Linked DNA regions of Homo sapiens: all the other regions are linked to region 1. The links come from fine-mapping of genetic effects on gene expression. A gene starts in region 1. Each other region holds a variant in brackets. All regions are shown on one strand. Distances are from middle to middle. Region 1 holds the start of CSGALNACT1 (chondroitin sulfate N-acetylgalactosaminyltransferase 1). Region 2 overlaps CSGALNACT1 (chondroitin sulfate N-acetylgalactosaminyltransferase 1). Region 3 overlaps CSGALNACT1 (chondroitin sulfate N-acetylgalactosaminyltransferase 1). Region 4 holds the start of CSGALNACT1-AS1 (CSGALNACT1 antisense RNA 1). Region 5 overlaps CSGALNACT1 (chondroitin sulfate N-acetylgalactosaminyltransferase 1). Region 6 overlaps CSGALNACT1 (chondroitin sulfate N-acetylgalactosaminyltransferase 1). Region 7 overlaps CSGALNACT1 (chondroitin sulfate N-acetylgalactosaminyltransferase 1).

The links.
Region 2: its variant is fine-mapped to the expression of CSGALNACT1 in whole blood (TOPMed, PIP above 0.99).
Region 3: its variant is fine-mapped to the expression of CSGALNACT1 in esophagus muscle (GTEx, PIP 0.94).
Region 4: its variant is fine-mapped to the expression of CSGALNACT1 in thyroid (GTEx, PIP above 0.99).
Region 5: its variant is fine-mapped to the expression of CSGALNACT1 in monocytes after LPS (Quach 2016, PIP 0.95).
Region 6: its variant is fine-mapped to the expression of CSGALNACT1 in whole blood (TOPMed, PIP above 0.99). The same link has a PIP of 0.9 or more in amygdala, anterior cingulate cortex, atrial appendage, breast, caudate and cerebral cortex.
Region 7: its variant is fine-mapped to the expression of CSGALNACT1 in whole blood (INTERVAL, PIP 0.98).

What each region holds. Positions count from the first base shown.
Region 1 is chr8:19,755,096-19,759,161 of GRCh38, reverse strand. It overlaps CSGALNACT1 (chondroitin sulfate N-acetylgalactosaminyltransferase 1), which reads left to right and starts at 1,885. Exons shown (of 9, transcript NM_001354483.2): 1 at 1,885-1,976.
Region 2 is chr8:19,665,775-19,669,840 of GRCh38, reverse strand. All of the region lies in intron 1 of CSGALNACT1 (chondroitin sulfate N-acetylgalactosaminyltransferase 1), which reads left to right. Among named protein-coding and RNA genes, the nearest start is that of CSGALNACT1-AS1, 11 kb to the left of the region's middle. The variant C/G (reference allele first, on the strand shown) is at 2,290.
Region 3 is chr8:19,718,096-19,722,161 of GRCh38, reverse strand. All of the region lies in intron 1 of CSGALNACT1 (chondroitin sulfate N-acetylgalactosaminyltransferase 1), which reads left to right. Among named protein-coding and RNA genes, the nearest start is that of CSGALNACT1, 37 kb to the left of the region's middle. The variant A/T (reference allele first, on the strand shown) is at 1,705.
Region 4 is chr8:19,677,922-19,681,987 of GRCh38, reverse strand. The region is part of intron 1 of CSGALNACT1 (chondroitin sulfate N-acetylgalactosaminyltransferase 1); the gene reads left to right. CSGALNACT1-AS1 (CSGALNACT1 antisense RNA 1) reads right to left here and starts at 3,443. Exons shown (of 2, transcript XR_007060841.1): 1 at 3,161-3,443. RefSeq lists an enhancer at 2,093-2,693. The variant C/G (reference allele first, on the strand shown) is at 1,616.
Region 5 is chr8:19,702,069-19,706,134 of GRCh38, reverse strand. The region is part of intron 1 of CSGALNACT1 (chondroitin sulfate N-acetylgalactosaminyltransferase 1); the gene reads left to right. Among named protein-coding and RNA genes, the nearest start is that of CSGALNACT1-AS1, 26 kb to the right of the region's middle. The variant A/T (reference allele first, on the strand shown) is at 2,333.
Region 6 is chr8:19,455,368-19,459,433 of GRCh38, reverse strand. It overlaps CSGALNACT1 (chondroitin sulfate N-acetylgalactosaminyltransferase 1), which reads left to right. Exons shown (of 9, transcript NM_001354483.2): 4 at 792-1,008. Among named protein-coding and RNA genes, the nearest start is that of SH2D4A, 140 kb to the right of the region's middle. The variant C/A (reference allele first, on the strand shown) is at 1,911.
Region 7 is chr8:19,401,472-19,405,537 of GRCh38, reverse strand. CSGALNACT1 (chondroitin sulfate N-acetylgalactosaminyltransferase 1) reads left to right here. Exons shown (of 9, transcript NM_001354483.2): 9 at 1-1,377. Among named protein-coding and RNA genes, the nearest start is that of SH2D4A, 90 kb to the right of the region's middle. RefSeq lists an enhancer at 1-77. The variant T/C (reference allele first, on the strand shown) is at 2,450.

The DNA.
Region 1 (4,066 bases):
AGAACCAATTGCAGCAACAAGGACGCCTCCTCCACCCTCCCCAAGCCTGTCCACATAGTCTAGAACCTGAGTCCAACCGTGTGTGTCTGTGGTGGGCCCTGGCAGTTACTGCTCAAGTCCTCTGGGCTGTCTTCCAGACCAGATTCCATGCTGAAACTGTATTTTCTAATTCTGCAGATATCACTGAGCAGAAGGACGGGAGATGCTTCAGGAGAGGAAAGAAAATCAATGCTTTGACAACACACCTGCCAATATAGGGAGGTGTAGGAATGCTTCGGTGGCAGTGGGAAGGCTCTGAAGAGGTTACTTGGTTACCCAAAGAGTGCTTGACTGTGAAGGTTCTAACCTTTACACAACTCATAACCAACGCCAGCCTCCATGTCCTGCCCTCCGTCTGCAAAATGGGGAGTATCATGATTTGCCTTAAGAGGGTGCTGTGTGATAATGTGGGAAGGAGCCTTGGCCAATGGCTTGTACCTATGTATGTGTGTACGTATGCTGTGTTAACTATTTATTACCTCCATTATGCAGCATTTTGGGGCAGTAGCAGAATAGACATATTTTTCATTCATTTGGAAAACACCCACTTCCCTGTTTCCCAAGTCTCAATTGAATTGCAGTGGGTATATTAGGTCACGAGGGTGAAGAGTTCACTCAGGGTGTGGGGTGGGGATAGGTCCACCTGGGGAGTCCAGGTGGGAAGCAAAACTTGCTTCAGGGATGCTTCCTGCAGGTAAGCAGGAGCTTAATGGAAACCGAGCTGCTTCAAGACTGTGCCTATAGCCTCAGGACTGCCTACCCTGTGCCCACAATAAAGTCTGGTGCGCCGGAATCTCCCAGATGGAGACTCTGAGCCAGGCAGTAGAAGGAGCCATGGCCAGGTAGTAGAAAGAGCACTGCCTCAGGAGTCATAGGACTGGTTTCCAGCTCCGGTTCTGCGGTGGCTCAGCCCTGGGGCCTCTGCAAGTTGCTTAACCGCATCTGCAGGTGATGACCTCTTCCAGTCTAACTGACTCCTCCTGAGTCCCCCTCAATTACACTGAAAATTGGCGATCCTATTTCCCAACTCCCTCTCCCACAGAGATGCGCTGGAGCACTTACAGATAAAAGGCGACCTGTGGCCCTGGAGGGTGCCTGCCTGTGTGTGCTGGAGGTGGCGGTGGATCTTTTATTACCCAACACTCCACTTGCCTTTTTAGCCTTTCCTCTCCCTCTTCTCTCCTGGCCTCCCAGTGGCCGTCAGGGGTCCCTGCAGACATCGCTTACCCACAGTGGTGCGGTGTGAGAGTTACAGGGGTTCCTGACCTTCGCTGTAAGTAAAAGCTCTCTAGGGGAGGCGTTATAGCTGACCAGGGCAGCAGAGACCGCGACTAAAGCGTGAATTCCCCGAAGTGCGATTTACAAAGTTTTTGCATGGAAGTCGGCGCTCGGCGGGGAGGGCAGCCAAGGGAACAGAGCGGGTGGAGCAGGGGGATGGGGAACTCTGTCCTGCAAGAGTAAGGACCCCATGGAGATTGGACACCTCTCTCCTGCAACTCGGGCCACGCCACAGTGTCCTAGTCTCTAAACTTCTCCGGCTCTTGGTGTCCAGTCACGCGTAAACCGCCCCTGGTGTCCGAGCGCGGCCCCTTCCGAGAGTGACAGGCTTCGGCCAGGGCGCCGCTCCGACGGGCGCAGGGACGCACTGCAGAGAGGCCGTGGGTGACGCGGAGGTACGCGGCCAACCGCGACCCCAGCCCGGCCTTGGCCGCCCCCGCCGGACCTACCCTGCGGCGGGGCGCCAGGCTTGGCCGCTGTTGCGCCCGCCCGCCCGAGCCGCCGCCGCCGCCGCTGCTCCCCGCCCCCGGGGTCCCTGGAGGCTCCGCGGCTGCCGGAGCGGGAGGTGGAGCCGAGTCCGCGGCGGCCGCGCAGGAGGGAAAGTTCAGCGACGGCGGCAGCGGCCGGAGCCGGGCCGGGCAGCTAGCAGGGCGCTTCGGGTGAGTCGGGTCCCCTCCCGGGCCAGCCGGGCGCGGTGTGCCGCGCGGGGGCGTCAGTGGCGCCGGCAGATCCCCACAGCCCCGCGCGCCTAGCTCGCGCCCGCCCACCCCGCGACCTCGGGGTGGCTCGTGCAGCTGCGGAGGACGGTGCCGCGCCTGGCCTCCCTCCGCCGCTGCCCGCCGGGGGCCCAGGGCACGGGCAGGGGCCGGGGACCGGCTTGGCAGGCGGAGGGCGCGGCGCCTCCAGGTGGGCGCGCGGGGACGCGGAGGGAGCTTCCAGGGAGGGTCCGGGGCCGCTGCGCTCCCGGGGTCGGTTTGGCTTCACCAGCGTTTCTCGTGGCCTTCCGCTGTCTGATTGCTTTCTGCAAAACCCACTGAAAAGTAGCCTTTCCACGTGCCGCGCGATGACTGCGGTTATTGTATTATTGTGGCTGGGATGGAGAGGGTGGAGGGGGCGTGACGAGGGTGGCCGGTGGGCAGCGCGCTCGCCTGCCCGGGACCGGGCTAGTGGGGGATGTGGCTGAGGGTCACCGCTGCCCGAACATGCCCAGGGGACGTGCGATCGGTGGGCAGAAGCTGTTCGAGGGCATGATCTTGGGGTGGGATGGGGGCTAGAAGGGCGGGGAGGAGAGGAAAGCTGTAGGAAGCGGAGGCAAAGTTGTTTGTTTCCGTCGCACTTCCTGCACCTGCATTCCTGTCAGAGATTTTGAAGTTATCTTTTCATCGATGAGCAAAGAATGGTGAGAAAGGAAGAGATGTTAACAGCACTGTGCCTGCCAAAACAGTGAGCCTCGGGAAATACTCATAAGTGAAATACTAATAAAAAGCATGGAGTGGTTAAATTTCACAAACTCCACTTTTCTTCTGGTTTCAAAGCCTTGGTGCAGTTTTTACTTAACGTCATTAGATACGTCTAGATAATAAAGGTAATGAAGTGTTCTTTCACGGTTTTTTTTTTTAAACTGGAAATTTAAATTTAATTCTGTAGGATTTCGTCGACATTGTTCCTACAAGAAAGTCAAATTACCTTGGTGTTACTTGCAACAGTGAGCATTAATAAGCCCTGTGCAGTGCTGAAATGTTGCTAATTGGAGGGAGAAAGGTCCTTCAAACTTGGAAATAGACGCAGAAAGGCAAGATGAATTTTTATGTAAGCCTTAGGCATAAAAGGCGACTTGAACACGTTTTGTAATAGTGCATAATACACAGGGGACTAGGTGTTGGGCTGCCGGAAGATGGTCAATTCCTAGAAAGCAAGAGACGGGCCATACCCATTGTAAGATCACCGTACATATTTAATAATTCGTCTGCCTTGAGCTGCCACACCATATGTACTCCACATAATACAATATCAAAATACTTTAATCCTGTTCATCTTTGTGTGCTAAATCTTATATGTCTATTTGTAAAATGTATTAGTGGGTTTTAAAGCAGAATCTCCGACATTTGGATTCATCCGTTTACATTACAGTGCAGTGAGCTTGTGTCTTTGCTGTTCCAGAGACCTGAGCTCCAGGCGGCTTCTTCCACTTATTAATTGCATGACCTTGGGCAAGTTACTTCCCCTTTCCTAGCCTTGGTGTCCTAATTTGTAAAATGCCAATAGTATTCCTCACCTTATAGAGATGTTTAGCAGGAGGAAATTACATTTGGGAACTTATCCTAGTGCCCCGAGCACACAGTATGCACTTCATAAATGTTGTCTTTTTTTTTTTTTTTTTTTTTTTTTGTCTTTCTTTACATTTAGGGATCCCCAACTCCAGCATGTTTCAACATTTAAAAAAAATTGTAAAAATTCCTTCTTCTTTGTAACCCTACTTTCTATTCATTTATCTATTGATTATTTATTGGAGAATCTCAGATACTGCCCAGTATAGGTGTTGAAAATAAGGAGTTGAAACTTTGGGGCAATACTTCAGCTTTTTCTTGTATCTTCCTAAGAATCCATCCTAAGTTCATATGATGATGAATGATACTTACCAATCTTCATGTTGCTCTAGCTCTGTTCTTAATGCCATGTTATTACATTAAAAAGAAATATCAGTAAGGTCTGCAAGGGTCCTCATCTTTCCTCTTTCCTCCATGTCTAA
Region 2 (4,066 bases), 89 kb after region 1:
CTGTTTTCAGCATGCAAATTAATGTTGCCACAACATTAGAAATGGCTTCTGAAAGACATGGTTTACAGCTGGGCACAGTGGCCCATGCCTGTAATCCCAGCACTTTGGCAGGCCAAGGCCAGTGAATTATTGGAGGTCAGGAGTTTGAGACCAGCCTGGCCAATGTGGTGAAACCCCCATCTCTACTAAAAAAAACAAAACAAAAACAAACAAACAAAAAACTGGCCAGGCATGGTGGCAGGCACCTATTAATCCCAGCTACTCAGGAGGCTGAAGGAGGAGAATCGCTTGAACCTGGGAGGGAGAAGTTGCAGTGAAGGAAGGTCGTGCCACTGCACTCCAGCCTGGGTGACAGAGGGAGACTCCATCTCCAAAATAAAAACCAAACAAACAACAACAAAAAAATTAGAAACGGTTTACAGTTTTTATTTGGTTTGGTAGAGTAACCATGTGCTTTGAATGTTTGTAGTTTTTATGATAGTGTCCTCCATCTCGGGATGAAATTTATTAAGCAAGGGTACATATTAATAAAATTGAAGAGAAAGTTGTTTGCTTCCAGAAACATAGATGGTAGTCATTTTCCTCTTCTGTGGTTGCATGTCTGCTGGGTTAGACTAGTGCTTGCATTTGCAAATCTACTCAAATTCCTATTGGGGAAATGGAGGTAAATTTTCAATGATTAAATTATTTTCTCAAAGCCAAATAGCAAATGATCAACATACTTTTGAATGAAATCCACATGTCTAGACTCCAAGAAGCCTGCTGTATCTGAGACCTTTTGTTTTACACAGAATTTGTTTGAGAGCCTGTAAATATTCATCTGTAATAAGTTGTTTTTCTGCAGAAGCATTTTGGTGAGAAATGAATACTTTGATCACTGGAAATTCATAGATTATTACAGTATTTCAAAAGGTTTCCTAGTATTTCAAGAAGGGTGTTCCTTATCCAACGTGATTGATCCCATTTTCCCATTTTAAATAAATTGGCAGGCCGGGCACAGTGGCTCACTCCTGTAATCCCAGCACTTTGTGAGGCCTAGTCTGGTGGATCACCTGAGGTCAGGAGTTCAAGACCAGCCTGGGCAACATGGTGAGACCCCATCTCCTAATAATCCAAAAATCAGCCAGGCATGGTGGCGCTCGCCTTTAATGCCAGCTACTTGGGAGGCTGAGGCAGGAGAATTGCTTGAACTGAGGAGGTGGAGGTTGTAGTGAGCCAAGATCATGCCACTACATTCCAACCTGTGTGACAGAGCAAGACTTGGTCTCAAAAATGAAAATAAAATAGATTGGCATTTTAGATGTATACAGCTAGGAATCTTTGGGTTTGAGTTTACTCATGAAGTAATTGATCAGTTATTTAAGAATACTTTTTTCTTATGTTACTTAAGGATTCAACTTCTTAATAATTTTTTAGTTTTTAAATTCTAAAATTACAAAAACAAAGGCTCATGTGGAATGATTGCCTTTTTTGATAAAGTTGTGTGTGTGTGTGTGTGTAACCGTGCATGTATGTGCAAGACAGAGATTGAGCTATGAGTGGCTAAGGAAGCTGAGGGGTGTCTGTCCCCAAACTTTGTCCCTGAGGTGACTGCAGAGATGAGGGTGCAATTAAAGGAACAGAGGAAAGCAGTGATGAGATGCTGTGTGATTTTACCATTCCTTTTTTGCATTTTTGAACAAAATATAGGAAAAATCTATGAAAACTATTTTTCATTGTGTAGATGACCATGTTTCATATTTGGGAGCCAGTTGTATTTCTCTCTCTGGAAAAGTTAAAGGATGTAATATATGCTGGTCAAGTTTTTATATTCTTACTTTCTAGCTTCTTCTAATATTTGAATGGTTAGGTTTCCTTCAGTTCAACTTCACTATGCTCATTTTCACAGTTGTGATCTGCGCTTTAATTCTATTTCTTCTTAAAATATTTAGTTGGAGGAAATTCCATGATCGTTCATTGAGTTTAATACTTTTTTATATGCTTTATCAGATTTTTGAATTCTTACCAGTATGTAATACCCTTATAATGAAAATATGTGGATGGTATAATCTTACATTACATTTTCTGTGGCTTAAGTTAGTGATTTATGGCCTATGATTTTTACATTTTTGATCACGAAGCAGCAAATGACCTTTGCAGCTCTTTGAAAGCTCTCCTGATCTGAGGAAGAGACGTTAGTCTTAGGGTTTCAAGTACCTTCTCCTTACTGCCGTTTTGTGGTCATGTTGCATTAAGGGCCTTGACTTGTTCATAATTCATCAGCCTTGGTTCAAAGGGGGTGGAACACGA[C/G]TGACTCTCTCATTGCAGTTCATTGTTCTCTTACCGTTGTGAGAAGTCATAATTAAATCACTTCACTCTTTAAGCACTAAGGTAGAATAGAAATAATGTCTTGATTTTTGTTTTTTGAGACAGGGTCTTGCTCTATTGCTCAGGCTGGAGTGCAGTGGTGTGATCTCAGCTCACTTCAGCCTCAACCTCCTGGGCTCAAGCAGTCCCCCTAACCTCAGCCTCCTGAGTAGCTGGAATGAGGGGCATGTGCCACAACACCCAGCTAATTTTTGTATTTTTTTTTTTTTTTTTTTGGTAGAGATGGGGTTTCGCCATGTTTGGCAGGCTGGTCTCAAACTCCAGAGCTCAAGCGATCCACCCACTTCTGCCTCACAACTTGCTGGGATTACAGGCATGAGCCTGTGCACCTGGCTGAAATTATGTCTTTTGATATTGTGATGAGATTTCTTTCCCTTTCTTTCTTTCTTTCTTTCTTTCTTTCTTTCTTTCTTTCTTTCTTTCTTTCTTTCTTCCTTCCTTCCTTCCTTCCTTCCTTTCTTTCTTTCTTTCTTTCTTTCTTTCTTTCTTTCTTTCTTTCTTTCTTTCTTTCTTTCTTTCTTTCTTTCTTTTTCTCTCTCTCTCTGTCTCTCCCTTCCTCCCTTCCTCCCTTCCTCACTTCCTCTCTCTCTTTCTTTCTTTCTTTCTTTCTTTCTTTCTTTCTTTCTTTCTTTCTTTCTTTCTCTCTCTCTCTCTCTCTCTCTCTTTCTTTCTTTCTTTCTTTCTTTCTTTCTTTCTTTCTTTCTTTCTTTCTTCTTTCTTTCTTGTTTCTTGTGTTTCTTTCTTGTCTTTCTTTGTGTCTTTTCTCTCTTTCTCTCCCGGGACAGTCTTGGTTTGTCAATTAGGCTGGAGTGCAGTAGCACAATATCGGCTCACTGTAACCTCTGCCTCCTGGGTTGAAGCTATCCGCCCACCTCCTCTCCCTCCTGAGTAGCTGGGATTACAGGCACTCACCACCACACCTGGCTAATCTTTATATTTTTTAGTAGAGACAGGGTTTCATCATGATGGCCAGGCTGGTCTGAACTCCTGACCTGAAGTGATTCACCCGCCTCAGCCTCCAAAAGTGCTGGGATTACAGGTGTGAGCAACCACACCTGGCTGAGAAAATGTTAATAGATGAATTGGGTGAAGTAGCTAAATAGAATAGGAAGAAGTAGAAGAGACAGGGTTTTCTTCATGGGAGCTGGAGCAAGTTGTTTGATTTTGTCTGGGCTTCTATTCCTCTAGTTATAATATGAGGACAATAGATGGTTTTAATTTCCCTACAGCACTCAGATTTTAAGGTCTGACGGTGAAAGTTGTGGCAAGAACACTGTTAGAATACCTTGTTCCTTTTCTAGCATTCAAATCCAGCTTCCGTGGAGCACCCTCCTTTCACCAGTGTTGTACAGGAACAAAGGGAAAAATCTTGAAGTCTGCCTGGATTTAAACTAGACAAACAACTTGAAATAACTCCAAAAAGATTAAAAATAACCCAAATCTGGACTGCCATGTGAGAGCTGTGATGAAGAAAGTCTAAAACAATGAGGAATCTTCAACTAGAAAAAAGATGGAGAAAATAAGAAGCCTGGAAAATCGACAATGTGGTTAGATGAATGTAGGTCCATTGATCTTGTCCTGGGAGGTGAGACTAAGAGGAAGTTGAAATGTTAACTGTAAATGAATAGAGAATGTGTTCTGTTTACGTAGCGAAGAACACATTTTTAGTTATTCATTATCCCAGGTGTAATTAACCAAA
Region 3 (4,066 bases), 37 kb after region 1:
TCTCATCTAATTAGGAAAAAAAGATAGATAACTAAATGCTTATTTTAAACAAATTTGAAATGTAAGCAAAAGGTTTCTATTGAATTTAAACCAACATGAATTAATCAGTTTTAAATCACAGAAAAAAAAATTCAATATGAAATTTCTTTTTTTTGCTTGAGTCGAAGACTTACTAGGTATTGGGAGCTGACACAGTAAATGTTTTACTGTAGCAACATTTTAGATTTGAATCTTTACATTGGCTACACCTGGGAATTTGTTTTTTTAGCAATTAATTTTTCTTTTGAAATTAATATGAAAGGAATACATTTAATGATCCATAGAAGTATTGACTTTATGTAAAGGAACAGCTAAAGCCAATTAGCATGTTTTAATTTGCATATATCGTGCAGTTCATTAGGCATAAATGTGTTCTCAGCATAATGCGTGATATTTCTCAAGTATGTGATATGATGAGAAGACTTTGGCGGTCTTTTCAAATTTAACATTTTCCATGACAGACAGAATTCTGTGTTTGTCATGGAATGTGGTATTTTAGTGTGAAGTGGCCCAATTTAAATGCTTTTAGCTAGAAGCCATTTCTCCCTCCTCTGAACTCTCTTGAGCACCCCAGCTATGGCTCATGTGCTTGTCATGGTCCATCAGGCTTTATGATTATTCCTCCGAGTTTCTTATCTCCCCCTGATACATGAGAACCATGTGCGGACTAGGATCGTGTCTCATGTGTTGTTGTCTGTGCCTATGTGTTTTGGGTAAAATATTTTTGAAGTTGCAGATTTCAGAGTGCAAACAGTGATTTCTGTACTTTGTTGATTAGAATCCTTCTATACATGGTGGGTGGAGTAGGCAGAGGGCTTGAGGTCTTGGCTGGGGACTTGGGCTTGTTGCATGGGCCTGGAGATCAGTTTCACAGTCTCCGGGATGTTGTTCACAGCAGGTTTTGGAAATGGTGGTGACAGGACTAGGACTCAAGAGAAAAATCTGGCAGATATCTCCAATGTGGTTCTGGGGTATGAGCCTTGAACTGAGAACCCAATGGGGAACATTTCAAGGTGACTGAATTCCAGCAGAAAAGGAGAGGGCTGGCTATACTGTTTGGTCACTGATTCTTGGATCTCATGTTTATTGTCACCTAGTGTGGTCCGGGAAACAGTGCTTTAAAACCCAGTGTGTGTTTTCTTCTCTGTCCTGGCTGTGCAGCTCCTATAGGAGATGAGATCTGAGGTCTCAGGGCCTCTGCACAGGGCCGTCCTTACCACTTCAGCAGGCCCCCTTGGGGACAGGTATCTGGCTCAGATTCTTCATCAGGGGCTTCGTTGTGATGTTTTAAAACATGCAACCAAAACCCTCCTCTGGGATGCTGCTTGGCCAGGACATTCTTGGGCATGAGCCAGCAGCACCAGAGTCATCCAGAGAGCGATGGAGGAAAGCTTTTTCCCTTTTGGGCTCTGAGAACAAGCAAGTGGATGGGAGGTAGAGGGGAGGGAGGGTGGAGAGAGAGAATCAGCATGATGTCTTCCCATGCCACGCCTGGCACAGCCACACTCCTTAGCCCTGTCCGGGGAAGGGAGCCACTCCTCGAAACTACCTCCCAAGACATGTAATGCATACAGTTCTACCAGGAGAGGTTGATTCTCTTGGATTGAACAGTGTCTCTCCAGGTAGGATAAATGTGATATTTTAGTGTGAAGTGGCCCAATTTAA[A/T]TGCTTTTAGCTAGAAGCCATTTCTCCCTCCTCTGAACTCTTTTGAGCACCCCAGCTATGGCTTATGTGCTTGTCATGGTCCATCAGGCTTTATGATTATTCCTCCGAGTTTCTTATCTCTCCCTGATACATGAGAACCATGTGTGGACTGGGATCGCGTCTTATTTATCTCTCTTATTATTAAGCACGCTGCCTCCCTACATCACTAGGGATTGACTTTGGCTGCCTGTAATGGAAAACCTAAAATGCTGGCATGAATTGCGGGGTTTCACTTCTCTTGTGCTAGGAGAAGGACAGGGGTAGTGGCTCCAGACTGGCACAGTGGCTCTTCCATGTCACCAGTGCCCTTTAGCTTTCTCCTCTGCCTTTCTCATCATTCTCAGGTTTGCAAAATGGCTCTTGTACCTCTGTGATTACATCCACCTTCCAGGAAGTCTAAAGGGCAAAAAGTGAGGTCAAAAGGGATGAGCCAGCCTAGTGTGCTCCTTCTATTATTAGAAAAATGATAGCTTTCTTGGAAGACCCTAACTAGTGAGCTTCAGCTTATGTCTCACTGGCCAGAAGTATGCCATGTGGCAATACTTAGCTGCAGGGGATCTAGGCGAGGGAGGTGTTTTTTCATTGTTGTTTTCTCATGAGGAAGAATGTATGGCTGCCTGGAGCAAAATTGGGGTGCTACTCATAAAGAAGAGAGGTGAATGTAGGCAGCTGGCATTGTCTGGCATCCTCCCACGTAGAAATGACTCAGACAGACACTTGCAGAATGAGTGGCTTTAACTGTGGACGTGAAGCTTTATACCAAGAGGGGAAGATCAAGGTCTAGAATCCCAGTAAGAAACAACACAGGGATTTTTTGCTGATTTGCTCCTACCATCATCACACAACTATTTTGGACATTTAGCTCCTGGCATCCATTGTCTTGTTGTTTTTTTCTGAAAACGATGGGAGATTCCTACATCAAGACCTTTGTGATGTTTAATGTACCCAGGTTCTGAGGCCTCCTGAGTTTTGGTTGGTCATAACAGAGACAGATTGAAGAATGTGTGCCTATTTCCAGACATACCCCTTAGATAATGACAAATATCGGCATAAGAAGATCCACTTGTCAACCTCGCATCACAGGGAGTACAGGGAGTCTGTGCCAGGCATGGGAAAGAATTCTAGCTTTTTCTCACTCACTTTCATCCTACCTTCCAAAAAAATGCATGCAATGTGGCAAGATAAAATATAAATCAGAAAGACAAATGAGTCCAAGAGAAAACAAGGATGGGAAGTGATAATTTGAGCCAGGGTTGAAGTATAAGTTACTGTTTTGTATAGTGTATGTGTATATTGTATATGTGTGGTATCAGGTCCTGTGTACTTCGTAGAAATAGGGTACAAATTTAGCTCTCAGGTTTTAGCAGTCAGCAGGTGGAGGGAAAGACTCTGTTACACAGTTCGCAGTGTCTACAAGACAGAGATAGATGGTTACTTAAGGGAAGCTTAACTCTTTACAACGGTGAGAGATCTTGCAGGGCGTATGTTAATAGCCATAATACGTCAGGACATCTTAGCATGATGGGGAATTTGGGTTACAGGAATCCAGATGAGAGAGGAAGTTCATTCCTGTGGTCTGAGAGGGCTTCACGGTCGTGGTGATCCTTGCAGAAGAGGCAAGGGTAGAGTGGATGCAAATAAGTCCTGTTTGGCCAGAGCAGAGCTTTGTGTGTGGGAGGCATGGGAGGCAATTTGGGTGGATTTAGAGATGGCTAAATGGCAAACAACTGCAAACTGGGTAATGTTTTGGGCCGGGGAAGTGACATGATCAAAGCAATGTTTTTAAAAAATGACTAAGTGTTCATGATGGGAAAGCATTGCATATAATAATTATCAGTTCATATGAAATAGAAACAGTACATTGATGGCAAGAAAAAAGAAAAGAGAATGTGTTTTAAAAACACAGATTCACTTGCTGCAACTGTGCGTTTTGTTGCTATAGCATAAGAACTGTGCAAATTCAATCTTTGGCTTCTAGTTTTTAAATAGGAAAATGGAGGAGAAATAGAAAGCCTGTGGCCAGGCTCGGTGGCTCACGCCTGTAAACTCAGCACTTTGGGAGGCTGAGGTGGGTGGATCACTTGAGTTCAGGAGTTCAAGACTAGCCTGGCCAACATGGTACAACCCCATCTCTACTAAAAATACAAAAATACAAAAATTAGAGGGGTGTGGCAGCAGGCACCTGTAATCCCAGCTACTTGGGAGGCTGAGGCAAGGAGAATCACTTGAACCTGGGAGGTAGAGGTTGCAGTGAGCTGAGATTGTGCCACTGCCTTCCAGCCTGGGTGACAGCATGAGACTCTGTCTCAAAAAGAAGGCCTGT
Region 4 (4,066 bases), 77 kb after region 1:
TCTCTTATGCAAACTGGTGAAGTGCTTCACCCTTGAGAAAATGGACACTGGCAGGTAAAGCAGCAGGCCCAGGGAGACCTGGAGTGTGACCCAGAAGGTGGGGTGGTGTCCAGGTGAACATGTCTTGGGGGCCCTGTGAACTCTGCCCTATGACATGGTGTGGCTAGAGAAGGTGTGAGCAGTGCCTTCTGAGCATGGTGCTCAGGGCACGGGCCCAGACTCTGGCCCAGCCTGGCATTCCCAGGGCAGGGGACAGAGATGGGAGGAGTTGAGGGAGCAAGTGGGAACTTGGAAGCACATCCAGGCCAGATGAGGTGCTGCAAGTGCCGAGGTCAGGCACTTCAAGCGTAGGAACCCTTGGACGTACCAAATTATGGTTTTAGAAATGTCTGTTTGTTATTTTTAGATTTGGGCAGTATGTCGCCTGCAGATTTACCACTTACCTGATGCAGACCCAGGAGACTTGTCTTGTATCTGCTCTGACCTCTCTCCTCCCAGGTCCCTAGGTCCCCAGTTCTTCCTTTTAATGTTGTGCTGGTGGCGACAGAAGTCTGCTGTGATGGAGGAGCCAGCGATGGGGATGGGGGCGCGAAGGACAGATGCACCATTTCCCCCTTTGCCTCTCTCTCCCGCTGCATTTATGGATCTGCTGGTCTAGTTCTCATTCTTTGCCTCAACCTCTTACACATATCCAATTCCTGCCTTTCTACTGTTTCCATTCTTACTCTGTTCCTTTCCTTGCTGTGAATTTCTTCCTATTGCTTGGTGTTGGTGGCTTGGCAGGGGCAGTGGGGGCTCTGCAGGGAGGTGGGAGATGCTTTCCTAGTATCCCAATGAGCTTCTATGACCTTGTGATAGTAGTAAGGTCGTCCCTTCATATCTTCAGGGGATTGGTTCCAGGAGTTTTGGGGATACTGAAATCTGGATGCCCAAGTCCCTTGTATAACATGGAGTAGTATTGGTGTGTAACCTACACACATCGTCTTGTATACAGTCTGTACAGTCACACGCAGTTTTCATCAACAAGGGACCACATATACAACTGTGGTCCCATAAGATAATGGGGCATATGTAGAAACCTGACATATGGCACTAAATAGTGGCATTGCAGATCAAGTAGGAAAAATGGTTGATATTCAGTAATGGTTCTGGGATATTTGTTTTTCCATGTGAAAACATATACATAAATAAAAACCTAATACCGTGTAGGTTTGTGTGAGTACATTTTGATGTTCACGTGCTGATGAAATTGCCTAATGATAGATCTCTCAGACCTATCACAGTCATTCGGTGACACATGACTACTTTAAATCACCTCTTAGATTACTTGTAATACCTAACACAGTGTAAGAGCTATGTAAATAGTTGTTATACTGTATTTAAAATTTGCACTATTCTCTTTTTTTGTGGGGGGGGGGGGGGGTGGGGCGAGGGTGCAGATTCTTCCTTTGTTGCCCAGGCTGGAGTGCAGTGGTGTGATCTCTGCTGACTGCAACCTCCACCTCCTGGGTTCAAGTGATTGTCCTGCCTCAGCCTCCCAGGTAGCTGGGATTACAGGCACCCGCCACCACACCCGGCTGATTTTTATATTTTTAGTACAGGCAGGGTTTTGCCA[C/G]GTTGGCCAGGCTGGTCTTGAACTTCTGACCTCAGGTGATCCACCTGCCTTGGCCTCCCAAAGCGCTGGGATTACAGACATGAGCCACCATTCCAGGCCTATATTTGCACTATTTTTAATTTTTGTCTTTTTAATTTTTATTTTTCCAAATATTTTTTATCTGTGGTTGGTTGAGTCCATGGATGCAGAGGAGCCCATGGATGCAGGGGGCCAACTATACTATTTCAGGTAGTTTACAAGTGAAATAGGCTTTTGGAGGTTGACATAGAAATCTATAACATTATTCCTGTGGGGAAGTATATTTCCAATTTCAAACAAGTAATTTGTTAAGTAAACTTTCAGAACTAAAGTTTGTCGTGGCTATTTTTAGAATTTTGCTACTGGAAGGGTGCTTTGTCCATTATAACCTGTAAATGAATTGAATCTACTCTAAGCCGGTATGTAGGCCCCCTTCCAGCTCAGAAGGTCTATGAATTCAGTGCACATTCCTCACTTTTATAGGGTAGGAAATTGAGATGAGAGTGTGTGAAGTTATTTCTATAAAGCCGCAGGTAAAGTGTTGCCGGGACTCTGGCTTCCTCTTCCACCCTCTTGTATGTCAGAACCTAAGAGTGGCGTTTTCATAACCCAAGGAATTTGGGCACCAGCACCTGTTTGTGGGTAGCTGGTGAATATTGATGGCACATGACTGTCTTGAGTCACAGCAGGTGGTGCCGGACCTTCCTTTGTGCACAGGTTGAAAGGCGATTTGAAGAAGAATAGCGAGTATCCTAGCTTTTTAAAGGTGGCTACAGGGGTATTTGATCAGCATTGTCAGCATCCTGCGTCAGTACCTTAAAATGAGATTGATCTGTATATGGGTTAAGTTGTTGGAATTTTCCCTTTGTGTTTTATTTTATTTTATTTTTTATTTTTTGAGGCAGGATCTCCCTCTGTTGCCCAGGCTGGAGTACAGTGGCATGATCATGGCTCATTGCAGCCTCGACCTCCCTGAGCTCAAGCCAGTTCTCTCACCTCAGCCTCCCAAGTAGCTGGGACTAGAGATGCACATCACCAAACCCCACTAATTTTTGTATTTTGTTTGTAGAAACGGGGGTTTATCATGTTGCCCAGGCTGGCCTCGAACTCCTGAGCTCAAGCGATCCACGTTACTCGGCCTCCCAAAGTGCTGGGATAAGAGGTGTGAGCCACTGCACCCAAGAGGAAGTTTCTTATGGCTTTGCTGCTGTCTTGAATTTCCTTACCTTTAAGAAGAGTTCCTGTACATAGAATAATTATGAAAGTTTTTCAAGTCTTTATGAAATTTTTCTACACTATTGATTGCATAACGTTTGTAAGACTGTTTCCTTATTCATAGAATAGGGATAATGATATCTCCTACTTAATCTTTATGTCAGGATTAAGTGATACCAGAGGAGACAGTCAAGCTCCCAGCATGGGATGGCCGTTAGTGAGTAACCACTAATTGCATTGGTTTCTATTATTGTTGTAGTTACTGTCATTATAATGAGGGCTTCCTGGTCTTACCTGCTTGGTGTCACTTACCAGGTCTTGTCCTTTTGGATGCCTCCTCCCTCATTTGGACATACTTCCTATTACTCCAGACGAATCTGTTTCATGTGCTGAAGCTCTCCCCTTCGTGGGTCAAAACGTATGGAATTTCTGCTTTGTAAAAAAAAATTCATAAGATTTTGATTAGTTACATTGCAGGATCTAGTTGTGATTCCACTCTGCTGCCTTGAGGTCCCACCAGTGATGACTTTATTGTTGACATTTTCCTTTACACTGTTTGTCTTGGACTTTCTTCTCTGCTTAATGAGCTGGGGACACAGGGACATTCCTGGAGCCTATTTACATTTTCTATTACGTGCCTGACTTGCATTTACGTCAGACATAATCAGTAACTGCTTAGCTATGAGGACAAAATGAGTTCTACCTTTCTGTAATAGTTACCCTTCCTGGTGACTTATCCTGGAATCATTTTTGTACTCTGTCGTTGGTTATTTGAAGAATTCTCAGTCTGGAGTCCCAATCCGAAAACTTTGCCTGTTTGTTAGGTTTCAGTATTACATGCTAATTCTAAAGAGCCCTCTATGCAGAGATGTCTGGATACTTCTTGTTAGGCCTTTTTGCCCCGGTATGCTGAGTGTTAAGGTTAATAGTGATTCCCTAAAACTTGGGATTAGTCCCTGAGAAAACAATTTAGGAAACATATTTGCAGTATGACTAAGTAGCATTTAGTGGGGTAATTTTTTTTTTTGTTTGTTTGAGATAAGAGTCTCAGGGTGGCCAAGGCTAGAATGCAGTGGCACGATTCTGCTCACTGCAGCTTCCACCTCCTGGGCTCAAGCATGTCAGCCTCCCAAGTAGCTGGGATTATAGGTGCCCACCACCACATCCAGCTAATTTTTTGTTTTTCAGTAGAGTTGGGGAATCACCATGTTGGCCAGT
Region 5 (4,066 bases), 53 kb after region 1:
CATGCTATTTGCTTTGTAAGGGCCCTGTATGATTGGGAGGTGGAGAAATCTATTTTAGTTTTTATTTGATCTGATTAGTATTTTTCCATGTCTGGGTTTATTTGTAGCTACTGCACCTCCAGATTTTTTTGCCTTTGTCTTCATGTTGGAGGGGAGGTTCGGGGATTCAGATAATCAAGTAATACAAGGTAATTGAAGATAATCGAGGAAATGAAAGAAAATGAAAATTAGTCGTGCCCTGTCATTCGATTATTCAGCTTTAACTAGCATCAACATTCTGGAATGTTGCTTTACTTTTATGTTTATGGTTGTATTTATATATTAAACATCTATTCATAATATGTCATGTACAATTTTTGAAACTCTAGCCTTACATTTTTTTCTCTGGATTTTTTTTTGAGACTGGGTCTCGCTCTGTTGCCTAGGCTGGAGTGAAGTAGTGCGATCTCAGCTCACTGCAGCCTCCCCCTCCCCGGCTCAGGCAATCCTCCCACCTCAGGCTTCCGAGTAGTTGGGACTATGGGCATGCACCACCATGCCCGGCTAATTTTTTGTATTTTTTGTAGAGATGGTGTTTCATCATATTGCCTAAGCTGGTCTTGAGCTCCTGGGCTTAAGCCTCCTGCCTCCTGCCTCAGCCTCCCAAAGTGTTAGGATTACAAGTATGAGCCACTGTGCCCAGCCTTCCCTGGATTTTAAAATTCAAATGATGAGCTTTTTCCTTCTAAATATTATTCAAAAACATGTCATTGAATGGATGCATAAAAATGCATTAGAAAATAATTATTGAACATTTAAATTGTTTCCAGTTTTTCCCTGAGTTAATGGAATTCTTGATGTAAGTCTTTGCATAAATAGCTACCCTTGAGTTACTATCCTTAAGGTAGAATTACTGATTTACTTTCTATTTGTTTTTCCCCCAAGTTTATTGAAGTATAATTGGCAAAAATTACATACAGTTAAGGTGTACAATGTGATGCTTTGGTATATGTTGTGAAATGATTACCATAATCAAGCTAATTATCACCTCACATAGTACCTTTTTGTGGTGCAAATACTTAAGATCTACCCTCTTAGCACATTTTAAGTGGGCAATACGTGTATTAACTACAGTCACTATGATGTAGGTTACCAGAACTTATTCATCTTGTAATGGAAAGTTTGCATCATTTAAGCAAAATCTCCCCATTTCCCAACTCTGTTTTCACACAGTAACTACCCTTTTAGTCTGTTTGAGTTCAACTTTTAAAACTTCCATATTGAAATGAGATTGAGCAATGTTTTTCTTTCCATGTCTAGGTTGTTTCACTTAGCATAATGTCCTCCAGGTTCATCCTTGTTATCACAAATGGCAGGATTTTCTACTTTTTTAAGGTAAATAATATTCTGTTTTATGTATATATCACATTTTCTCCATCCATCCATCCATTTATCCACCCATCCATCCATCCATCCGTCTATGGGTACTTAAATTGTTTCCATATCTTATTGTGAATAATGCTGCAGTGAAAATAGTGCAGGTATCTCTTTGAAAAAGTGATTTTATTTCCTTGTGTATATACCCAGAAGTGAGAGTGCTGGATCATAGAGTAGTTCCATTTTTAATTTTTGAAGAACCTCAATACTGTTTTCCATAATGGCTATACCAATTTACACTCCTATCAACAATGTATATGGATTCCCTTTTCTCCAAGTCCTCGACAACACTTGATATTTTTGACTTTTTCATCACAGCCATCTTAAGGTGTGAAGTGATAGATGACTGTGGTTTTGATATGCAAGAAATTTATTTTTAAAAAGTATTAATGGTACTTTGGAAAAATTCAAAATTTCTTCTCCATCTAACAATATAATATCGGCCTGGAAGGGTCTGTGATTCAAATGCCCTGTTACCTTTCTTCTTTCTCCTTTGGCAGCACATTCGTTTAGTGCCTTGTTTTTCCAGGGACTGGGGGAAATGGAAGAGAGGAAAGGAGGGAGAGAAGAGAATAAGAATGATCCATGTAATTATGTAATTAACCATCAAGCTTGGTTAATTCAGAGCATTCTCATTCTTTCATTCATTCAAAACTTTAAAAAGTAAGATCTCCCATGTGCAGTGTAGTGTGTTAGGCTTACTGAGTGGGGCTGGAAGAGCAAATCAGACATAGATGATACCCTCAAGGGTCTGACAGCTCTCAGGAAAGATGTCACTGCCAGATATGCACCCGTACTATGTAAGAGGCTCCTGAGAGCTGCGTGTAGGATAAGGGAGGAAAGCCAGTGCATGGGCAGTTTCCTAAAAAACACTGTTAATTGTAACGTACTTTGTAGAGAACTAAACTTAATCACA[A/T]AAATTACTTGGTGTAGAATATGTTGTTCTGAGTGAATGAATCTGATAACTTTGTATCAATCAGGGAGACATGCAGACCATGAGAGGATTTCTTGTATTGATTAAACTTTGTTTTACTGTGGAAGGTGCTGTGCAGTCAGTAGTAACCAACTCTCCAGTTACCTGAAGGTCTGAGGAGCACTAAAAACAAAGAGAGGGCTGGGCATGGTGGCTCACACCCACCGGTAATCCCAGCACTTTGGGAGGCCCAGGCGGGTGGATCATGAGGTCAGGAGATCAAGACCATCCTGGCTAACATGGTGAAAACCTGTCTGTACTAAAAATACAGAAAATTAGCCGGGCTTGGTGGCAGGTGCCTGTAGTCCCAGCTACTCAGGAGGCTGAGGCAGGAGAATGGCATGAACCTGGAAGGCAGAGCTTGCAGTGAGCTGAGATCCCGCCGCTGCACTCTAGCCTGGGTGACAGAGTGAGATGGCGTCTCAAAACCAACCAACCAACAAACCAAGAGAGGTCAGCCTGTTCTTATTATGTAACAACTTCGAGTGGCTCAAATCCCAAGTCACATGCCACGTCAATGGCTCCTTCTGAACAAGGGCTGAGCTGCCATGGGTCTAGTTGAGAAGGAAAAGCTCTCGATTTCAGGGTCTTGGGTTATTTTGGTAATAGATCAGAAGACAGTAGCATCCTATTGGAGGGACACTAGTGAGCACTTCCCAATGACCTCCCTTCTTCCCCTGCCTCAGACATCCATAGGGTTACAGGTTTCCCTTTTGAGCTTGAATTCTGTCCACGGTGATCATGTTGATCAGATGAGATATAAAGGGAAGTGAACCCACACCAGGAAGGGGGCTAAGAGGGGTGTAGGGGAAGAAGTGGATCTAGTCATTGGCCCTGGTCTAAGTGGGGGCTACTGGGTGGGGGGCTGGGCTACACTGATTCCCTTTAGGGGAGACCCTGAAACCCAGAGCTTTTCCTTCTGCACTAGATCCATGGCAGCTCAGCCCTTGTCCAGAAGGAGTCATTGACATGGTATGTGACTTGAGTCTTGAGGACGAGGTCTGGTATAGACACATGGAACTGGGTGATGGATGGGAGAAGATGGGTGTCTGGCCAACAGAGCAGTCTGTGACAAGGACTGAGATGGAGCATTCCAGGTGCATGCAGGGGACAACCAGTGCTTAGTTTGGCTGGAGGGTTTTGCTTGGGAAGGGGAGTGCTGGAAAGGTGGGAAAGGGCTGGGAGCAGATGCAGGTTGAAGAATTTGAATTTTAAAAAATTAATTAAGTTTTTTTTTAGAGACATAGACCCTGACACCTAAACTGGAGTGCAGTGGTGTGATTATAGCTCACTGCAGCCTTCAACTCCTGGGCTGAATTGATCCTCCAGCCTCAGCCTCCCAAGTAGCTGGGACTACAGGTGTATCCTCAACTAATATTTAAATTTTAATTTTATTGTAGAGATGAGGTCTCACTATGTTGCCCAGGCTGGTCTCAGAAGGAATCCTTCTGCCTCAGCCTCCCAAAGCATTGGGATTACAGGTGTGAGCCATTGCACCTGGCCCAGAGTTTGGCTCTAGGGATCCACTGAATACCTTTGGGAAGGGCTGTGAGGGGCTCAGAGCTCCACTGTAGAGAGATTCATCTTGCAATGGTGGTGTGATGGATGGTGAAGAGGAGGGATCAGAAACAAGGGCATCTGTTAGGAGGCTATAATGATGGTTCAAGCAGTATTTAA
Region 6 (4,066 bases), 300 kb after region 1:
ATCTGAAATGGACATAACTTCTTTCCTTTTTTTTTTTTTTTTTTTTTTTTTGAGATAAAGTTTCGCTCTGTTGCCCATACTGGAGTGAAGTGGTACAAACTTGGCTCACTCCAACCTCTGCCTCCCGAGTTCAAGCGATTCTCCTGCCTCAGCCTCCCAAGTAGCCAGGGTTACAGGCGCACAACATGACGCTCTACTAACTTTTGTATTAGTAGAGATGGGGTTTCACCATAGTGACCAGGCTGTTCTCAGACTCTTAACCTCAGGTGATATGCCCACCTCAGTCTCTCAAAGTACTGGGTTTATAGGCATGAGCCACTGCGCCCAGGCTGAAGTGGTTTAATTTCTAAGACATAATTTTATTGCTGATTTTTAAAATTAAGTATAATTATTTTAATATTCTTCAAATCATATTGCAGGAAATTTGGATACTAGAAGAAAAGAAAAAAACACATAATCCCACTCTATATCATAGTCAGTCTTATTTTGGCCTGTTTCCTAAAAATCCTTTTGCAAATGCCTCTGTATCCTATGAATACAGTTTGTATCCAGCATTTCAAGCTTTTTCCCATGTTTTTATGCAGTCTTCATAACTGTGATTTTAAAATTCATGCTATTTTGACTTCTTTTGGAATTTTTTAATTGGGAGCATTTTGAATTTTCGAATAATTGTTGGAGAGATTTCATCTTAAACACTTTTTAAAGGCATTCTGTGCTAGATCTCGGTTGAAAAACACTCAGCAGCCAAGGTTAATTTTTAGAACTATCTTTCCTTGTTTTTCTCTTAACAGGGATCTACCGAACAGAAAGGGACAAAGGGACATTGTATGAGCTCACCTTCAAAGGGGACCACAAACACGAATTCAAACGGCTCATCTTATTTCGACCATTCGGCCCCATCATGAAAGTGAAAAATGAAAAGCTCAACATGGCCAACACGCTTATCAATGTTATCGTGCCTCTAGCAAAAAGGGTGGACAAGTTCCGGCAGTTCATGCAGAATTTCAGGTTGGTTTGTTCGCACGTGTTTATCTTCCTCCGCATGATGTGTGTTAGAACACTGATATCATTTCCCGTCATCTCCTTCATTTCCCCTGCCGAGTACAAAGCCTCCTTTCTCTTATTCAGCTCTGTTTTCTCCACGTAAAGTTTATCATTTGTATTTGCCTTTCCCTAGAGCAATTAGAAAACTGCCTTACAAGCATATTGACCTTCAGAAGTGAAAAGCAGGAAGGACTGGGTTTTCACCAGGATCTACAAAGATGACTGAATGCCTGTTATGTTCATTCTGACTTGCGGAGGGGCTCAGGTTTGGGGATAGCAGGAACCAAGACTCCCAGGCAAGTGAGCAGCCTTGAGTCTTGAGGAGGAGAGAGGAGCTGGTGGTGGCAGAGCCCACGTTGACAGTTGGCGAGCTATGCAAGGTGTTCTTGATTGGCTCTAGGCTGCCTTCACCTGCTGTCCTGTTCTAGTGGTGGCTGCAATGCATTGAATCCAAATCTATCTTTTATTGTAACCTGCATCATCTTAGACTTAAGTGTAGAATTATACCAAGAAGGTTTCAAGCCCACATTTTTGTAGCTACTCAATGAGACTAAGCTGGGTTTCATTTTTCAGGCCTGCTGATGAAGTTTTTAGATGTGTGCCTTTAAGCCCTTGATTGTGCGGTGTTGGATCTTAGAAGCTGTGATGGCTCAGATGCACATATTGGCTGAGGATAACCAGCTAAGTGATTTCACCAGCTTGTTTTAAACATAGAAAATCCTACTGTCTAATTATAAATCTTGAAAGATCAAGCTGATTTTTTATTTCTTTTTTTTTGAGATGGAGTCTTACTCTGTCACCCAGGCTGGAGTGCAGTGGCACGAACTCTGCTCACTGCAACCTTCACCTCCCAGGTTCAGGTAATT[C/A]TCCTGCCTCAGCTTCCCAAGTAGCTGGGATTACAGATGCCCATTACCATGCCCGGCTAATTTTTGCATTTTTAGTAGAGACCGGGTTTCGCCATTTTGGCCGGGCTAGTCTTGAACTCCTGATCTCAGGTGATCTGCTCACCTCGGCCTCTCAAAATGCTGGGATTACAGGCGTGAGCCACCGTGCCCAGCCTTGATTTTTAATCTTAGTAAATTTACATTATTGAAAGGCATAATGTTCAGTATAAGGGTGTGGTTGATACCTTTCAAAATTCTGGTTCATGAGCGTACTCTGTTTGAATTTAAAGGATAACCCACTTATAACTAAGTTTTTTGAAGATTAGAATCAAATAGTCTTAGACCTTTGAGGTCATCTGGTCTAATCTTCCCTTAATTGAGACTGTCTTTCTGACGTAGGGTTCTCTAGGCAATGTGTGTGTGCACCAGGAAGCTGCCTACATTACTAGTCAAGCTGCTGCTTTGTTGATCATCTCTGGATAGGAAGTTCTTTATTGTTTATGCCTGAAGTCGGCTTCCATGTCTTTTCTGCCTGGTGGGTCTAATTCTAGCCTCTGGAGGACTGAACAAGTCTATTTCTTCTTAAACATCATAAGTTTTCAAATATTTGAAGGTGGTCATCACAACTCCCCTAGTCTTTTCTTTCCAAGGTATAGCAGTTCTCAATTCCCTTAGCTTTTTCATATTCCCTAGTTCGTAAATTTCTTTTAATTAGCTGGAGCTTGCCTTTAGCCATGATGTAATCCAAAGTAGAGTGGGCTAATAGATTGATCTTTTCCCAGTTTGTAGAATACTCCTTTGTGCATGATCGCATAATTGTTTGCAGTGTTCCTCTGGCTCCAGTCCTGAAGTGAGTGTTTTTATAGTTTTGGCTTCTTTCAACCTTCTTTTAGTGTTTTTGCTCTCTTTCTCTGTAGGTTTTCCCTTTGGAATGGCACAGTGCCGCTGGTTGATTAAACATTACATCTCCAGAATGACTGAACCTGCGGCGTTCTGAATGCAGTTGTTGAACCTGAATGTGGTTTGCATTAGGCATTAAGTGAAATCATTACTCTCAGCAGCTAGAATGCCCATTTCTAGGACGAGGTTATCGCAAGTTCATTTGGCAAAGAAGCTGCCTATGTCTTACTGGGTTCAGGGTCCTGAGCTTTGATTCTCTGAGTCCTTGGACATGTTAGGCTTGCTGAGGTGGTGCTTACACTAAAGAAGTATCTGCTCGGTGAAAGGACAAGTCCTCACTGTAGGACTCCTGGGCCTGAAATAGCAGGATTCTCTTGGGTATATATGAACAGCTATTTCCTTAGTGTCAGCAGAATTTTAAGCAATTAACAATAGCAATAAAACAGGAAAACAGGAAGGGAAGTTTCATTGAGAATAGTCAAATGAGTAGCTTACAAGCCTCAAAACGGGTGAAATGAAACGTGATTCCAGTTAATGTTTTAAAAGAACACAAAAATCCCAGGGCAGTTTGCCTTGAGCTGATTCATCTCAGCCCACCATATGGACTTTTACTATTTGGATGTCCCTTGCTCGTGGAGGTAGGAAGGGATGGGTGGCGGAAGACTTGTGACCTGGAGAGGATGTTTTGAGAGCCTTTTGCATGTGCTAGACATGCTACCAAGGTGCAGGGGATCAGAAGATGAATTGAAGATGCGGTGCCTACTTTCACTAATAGCAGAAGCTGCAAATGCAGAGCCAGGCGCTGTGGCAGAGATACAGACAGGGGACAATGGGACACAAAGAGAATCTGGCCAGGACAGCTGACACTGGAGCAGGAGGCTGAGTAGGGAGTTTATGTCACAGTCAAGGCATTTCTGAGACTGTTGATGTCTCTGAAAAACTGGGATGCGAGAGGGTAAATACCTGTGGGTATTTAATGCTTCATAAAACCTTATTAAAGATGGCATTTCAAACCCAAAGAAGGGGTTATTCAGGGCATGGTGTCAGGACAACTAGCCAAACATAGCAGAAAAAAATGTGATTCTTATTTCACACCAAAAAAGCAAAGTAAACTCCAATTAAATAATTAAATGCAATTAACATGACCATAAAGTTACTGGGAGAAAATATAAAGGGCTGCTTAATAAATATTTGATGTTGTCTTTATAAATTCCTTTCCATCCCCAGACTGGAGACTG
Region 7 (4,066 bases), 350 kb after region 1:
GAGATTATAAGCCTAATGGTGTGGAGGTTTTGATGGTGTTTACAACACACTGAGACCTGTTGTTTTGTGTGCTCATTGAAATATTCATGATTTAAGAGCAGTTTTGTAAAAAATTCATTAGCATGAAAGGCAAGCATATTTCTCCTCATATGAATGAGCCTATCAGCAGGGCTCTAGTTTCTAGGAATGCTAAAATATCAGAAGGCAGGAGAGGAGATAGGCTTATTATGATACTAGTGAGTACATTAAGTAAAATAAAATGGACCAGAAAAGAAAAGAAACCATAAATATCGTGTCATATTTTCCCCAAGATTAACCAAAAATAATCTGCTTATCTTTTTGGTTGTCCTTTTAACTGTCTCCGTTTTTTTCTTTTATTTAAAAATGCACTTTTTTTCCCTTGTGAGTTATAGTCTGCTTATTTAATTACCACTTTGCAAGCCTTACAAGAGAGCACAAGTTGGCCTACATTTTTATATTTTTTAAGAAGATACTTTGAGATGCATTATGAGAACTTTCAGTTCAAAGCATCAAATTGATGCCATATCCAAGGACATGCCAAATGCTGATTCTGTCAGGCACTGAATGTCAGGCATTGAGACATAGGGAAGGAATGGTTTGTACTAATACAGACGTACAGATACTTTCTCTGAAGAGTATTTTCGAAGAGGAGCAACTGAACACTGGAGGAAAAGAAAATGACACTTTCTGCTTTACAGAAAAGGAAACTCATTCAGACTGGTGATATCGTGATGTACCTAAAAGTCAGAAACCACATTTTCTCCTCAGAAGTAGGGACCGCTTTCTTACCTGTTTAAATAAACCAAAGTATACCGTGTGAACCAAACAATCTCTTTTCAAAACAGGGTGCTCCTCCTGGCTTCTGGCTTCCATAAGAAGAAATGGAGAAAAAAATATATATATATATATTGTGAAAGATCAATCCATCTGCCAGAATCTAGTGGGATGGAAGTTTTTGCTACATGTTATCCACCCCAGGCCAGGTGGAAGTAACTGAATTATTTTTTAAATTAAGCAGTTCTACTCGATCACCAAGATGCTTCTGAAAATTGCATTTTATTACCATTTCAAACTATTTTTTAAAAATAAATACAGTTAACATAGAGTGGTTTCTTCATTCATGTGAAAATTATTAGCCAGCACCAGATGCATGAGCTAATTATCTCTTTGAGTCCTTGCTTCTGTTTGCTCACAGTAAACTCATTGTTTAAAAGCTTCAAGAACATTCAAGCTGTTGGTGTGTTAAAAAATGCATTGTATTGATTTGTACTGGTAGTTTATGAAATTTAATTAAAACACAGGCCATGAATGGAAGGTGGTATTGCACAGCTAATAAAATATGATTTGTGGATATGACTGCTTTGTGGAGTAAGAATGTCATTTTGTTTAGTTTTTGGAAATAGTATATTGTGCATGGACCATGGTTTCTCAGCCTTGGCACTACTGACACGTTAGACTAGATAACTCTTTGCTGTGGAGGGCTGTCTTCTATACTGTGGGATGTTTAACCACATCCCGAGCCTATACCCACTAGAGGCCAGGAGCATCTCCCACCCAGTTTTGACAATCAGATTGTCTCCAGTCATGCTCAAATGTCCTCTGAGGGGAAATCACCCCTGGTTAAGAACCACGGGGCTAGAGGGAGAAGAGAACCATAATGAAAAACCTGAATTATTAATACATTAACTTGTCTGTTTTCATTAGAGGAAATTGAGAAATGATTTCCAAGGCCCCTTTCAACTCTGTGCTTAATATTGTCACGTGTGGCTGGGCACTGTGGTTAATGCCTGTAATCCCAGCACCTTGGGAGGTCAAAGTGGGAGGATCGCTTGAGCCTGGGAGTTTGAGACCAGCCTGGGCAACATAGTGAGACCCTGTCTCTACAAAAAAATACATAATTAGGTGTGGTGGTACACACCTGTAGTCCCATATACTCAGGAGGCTGAGGTGGGAGGATCACTTGAGTCCAGGAGGTCAAGGCTGCAGTGGTGAGCCCTGATTGCACCACTGCACTCCAGCCTGGGTAACAGAGTGAGACCTGGTCTCAAATATATATACTTTTTTCTGTGCTCTGATGATACTAGTAACTTCAGGGCATGTGTTTGGCCTGTCTCTGGCATGGTTCTGATGGATTTGTGGTGAGTGCCCTGCATGCTCTTGTCCATATCCTCCCAGCGTAAGAAGGATGGGTGTCTAATGAGGCTGGCAGTGGCAATCCAATATTCTGACTGTGGAACTGGACAGGTCTGAGAGTCTCACAGGTGGTCCCATCCGGGCTGCACTCTGTGGGCTCATCAGCCATTTTTGTGCTTGTTTACATTTCATATCACAGATGCCCAAGACAGTGGTGAAGAATTTTTTTCCTTTCCAACTTTTTAGGAGGTTCCTGTGCTGATTTGTCACATGGGTAAAATGCGTGTTGCGGGGG[T/C]CTGGTGTGCAGATTCTTCGGTCACCCAGGTAATAACTGCAGCACGTATTTTTCAGTCCTCACCCTCCTCCCACAGTCCACCCTCAAGTAGGCCCCGGTGTCTTTTGTTCCCTTCTTTGTGTTCATGGGTTCTTAGCATTTAGCTCCCACTTGTAAGTAAGAACATGCAGTGTTTGGTTTTCTGTTCTTGTGTTGATTCGTTTAGGAGAATAGTCTCCTGTTCCATCCATGTTGCTGCAAAAGACATTATTTTTTTCTTTTTTATGGCTGTGTAGTTAAGAATTAAGAATTGGGTTTTTTAAAGTTGTGGAGAGTAGCTGATGAGGAGATGGGACAGCATAATATTCAACTACGGTATTTCTTTTTCAAAGCTTATTCAGGTAAAACAGTTTCATTAAAGGGTAGAGGCCCTCTTTAGCAACATGCTAGTGGAGAATACCCCCCTTTGCCTGCCCAAGACATACAGAAAAGAAGGATTGTAGAAGGTCCCACGAAAACATTAGAATTAGGAGGCTGGAATTTAAACTTAGCAAAGGAAAGCAGTATCGGAACAGTGGTTTCAAGAACCCAGTCACGTCGCACATTCTCAAGGATGCTGCTGAGAAAACAGTGAGTCTTGGGCTTGCCTAAGGCCCCTTCCAACTCTGCATGCTCTCTCTGTTCCTATCCCTAAATTGTCCAGTGACCAGCACAGGTTATCTTACTGAGCTGGGCTTTCTAATACAGTGGAGGTCTCCTCCAGGCGGTGGTGTACTGGTACAGCCTCGTGGGAGCCAGTTTTCAGCACTTCTTTCCAGTCCTCACTCCGTGTTGACAGGGTGGTAGCTTGAAATCCATCACGGTGGAAGTATTTACACCATGGAAACTGGCAATTGGCAAATGCTGCCAATCAGCCATCCTTACCACCTCTGGGCCCCTAGGCCTGGCCCATTGTTAAATTATATCCACATATCATTGCCTCTAAGTGACATACCTGGGCTACCTGGGCTGTTTTCTCTGCAGTGATCTACTTCCTAGCCCCTCTTTGTATTTATAAATGTGGTTGACTGCCCCTTTCCACATCACTGATGAAGATCAGGCCTAGGAAAATAGCTACCCGGAATCTAATTTTAGTAATGTTTTTGTTTCAGGAAAAATCGTCTTATCTAATTTTACGTAATAGGGGTTCAGCGCAGTAGAGTAGTTGATATCATGGTTTTTCCAGCCAGACAACCTGGGTTCAGATTCCAGTTATTTTATTTGCAATTTACAGGATCTTAAAGGAGTTGCTAGATGTCTTCATACCTTGATGTCCTCATTCAGGGTGATGGATTCAATCCTTGTATATCATGCAGTTGTTTTAAAGATTAAATGGGTTCATATGTATGAAGCACTTAGGAAACATCAGGCACACGGTAGGTGTTGTTAGTATTCAGCACACAATTCCACATGTACAAATGTGTATCTGGCAGTGTCTGTTAAGCTTCTCGGTATGCCCAGTGCTGCTTGGATATAATCAGATGGCTATTATAGGCAATACAGTAAAGATGATGAAGCCGTCATGTACACTGTTGTTCTTTTTGTCATTCTCAAAACTTAATCTATCTGAAGGAGAAGGGTTACTAGGAGTGTGAAATT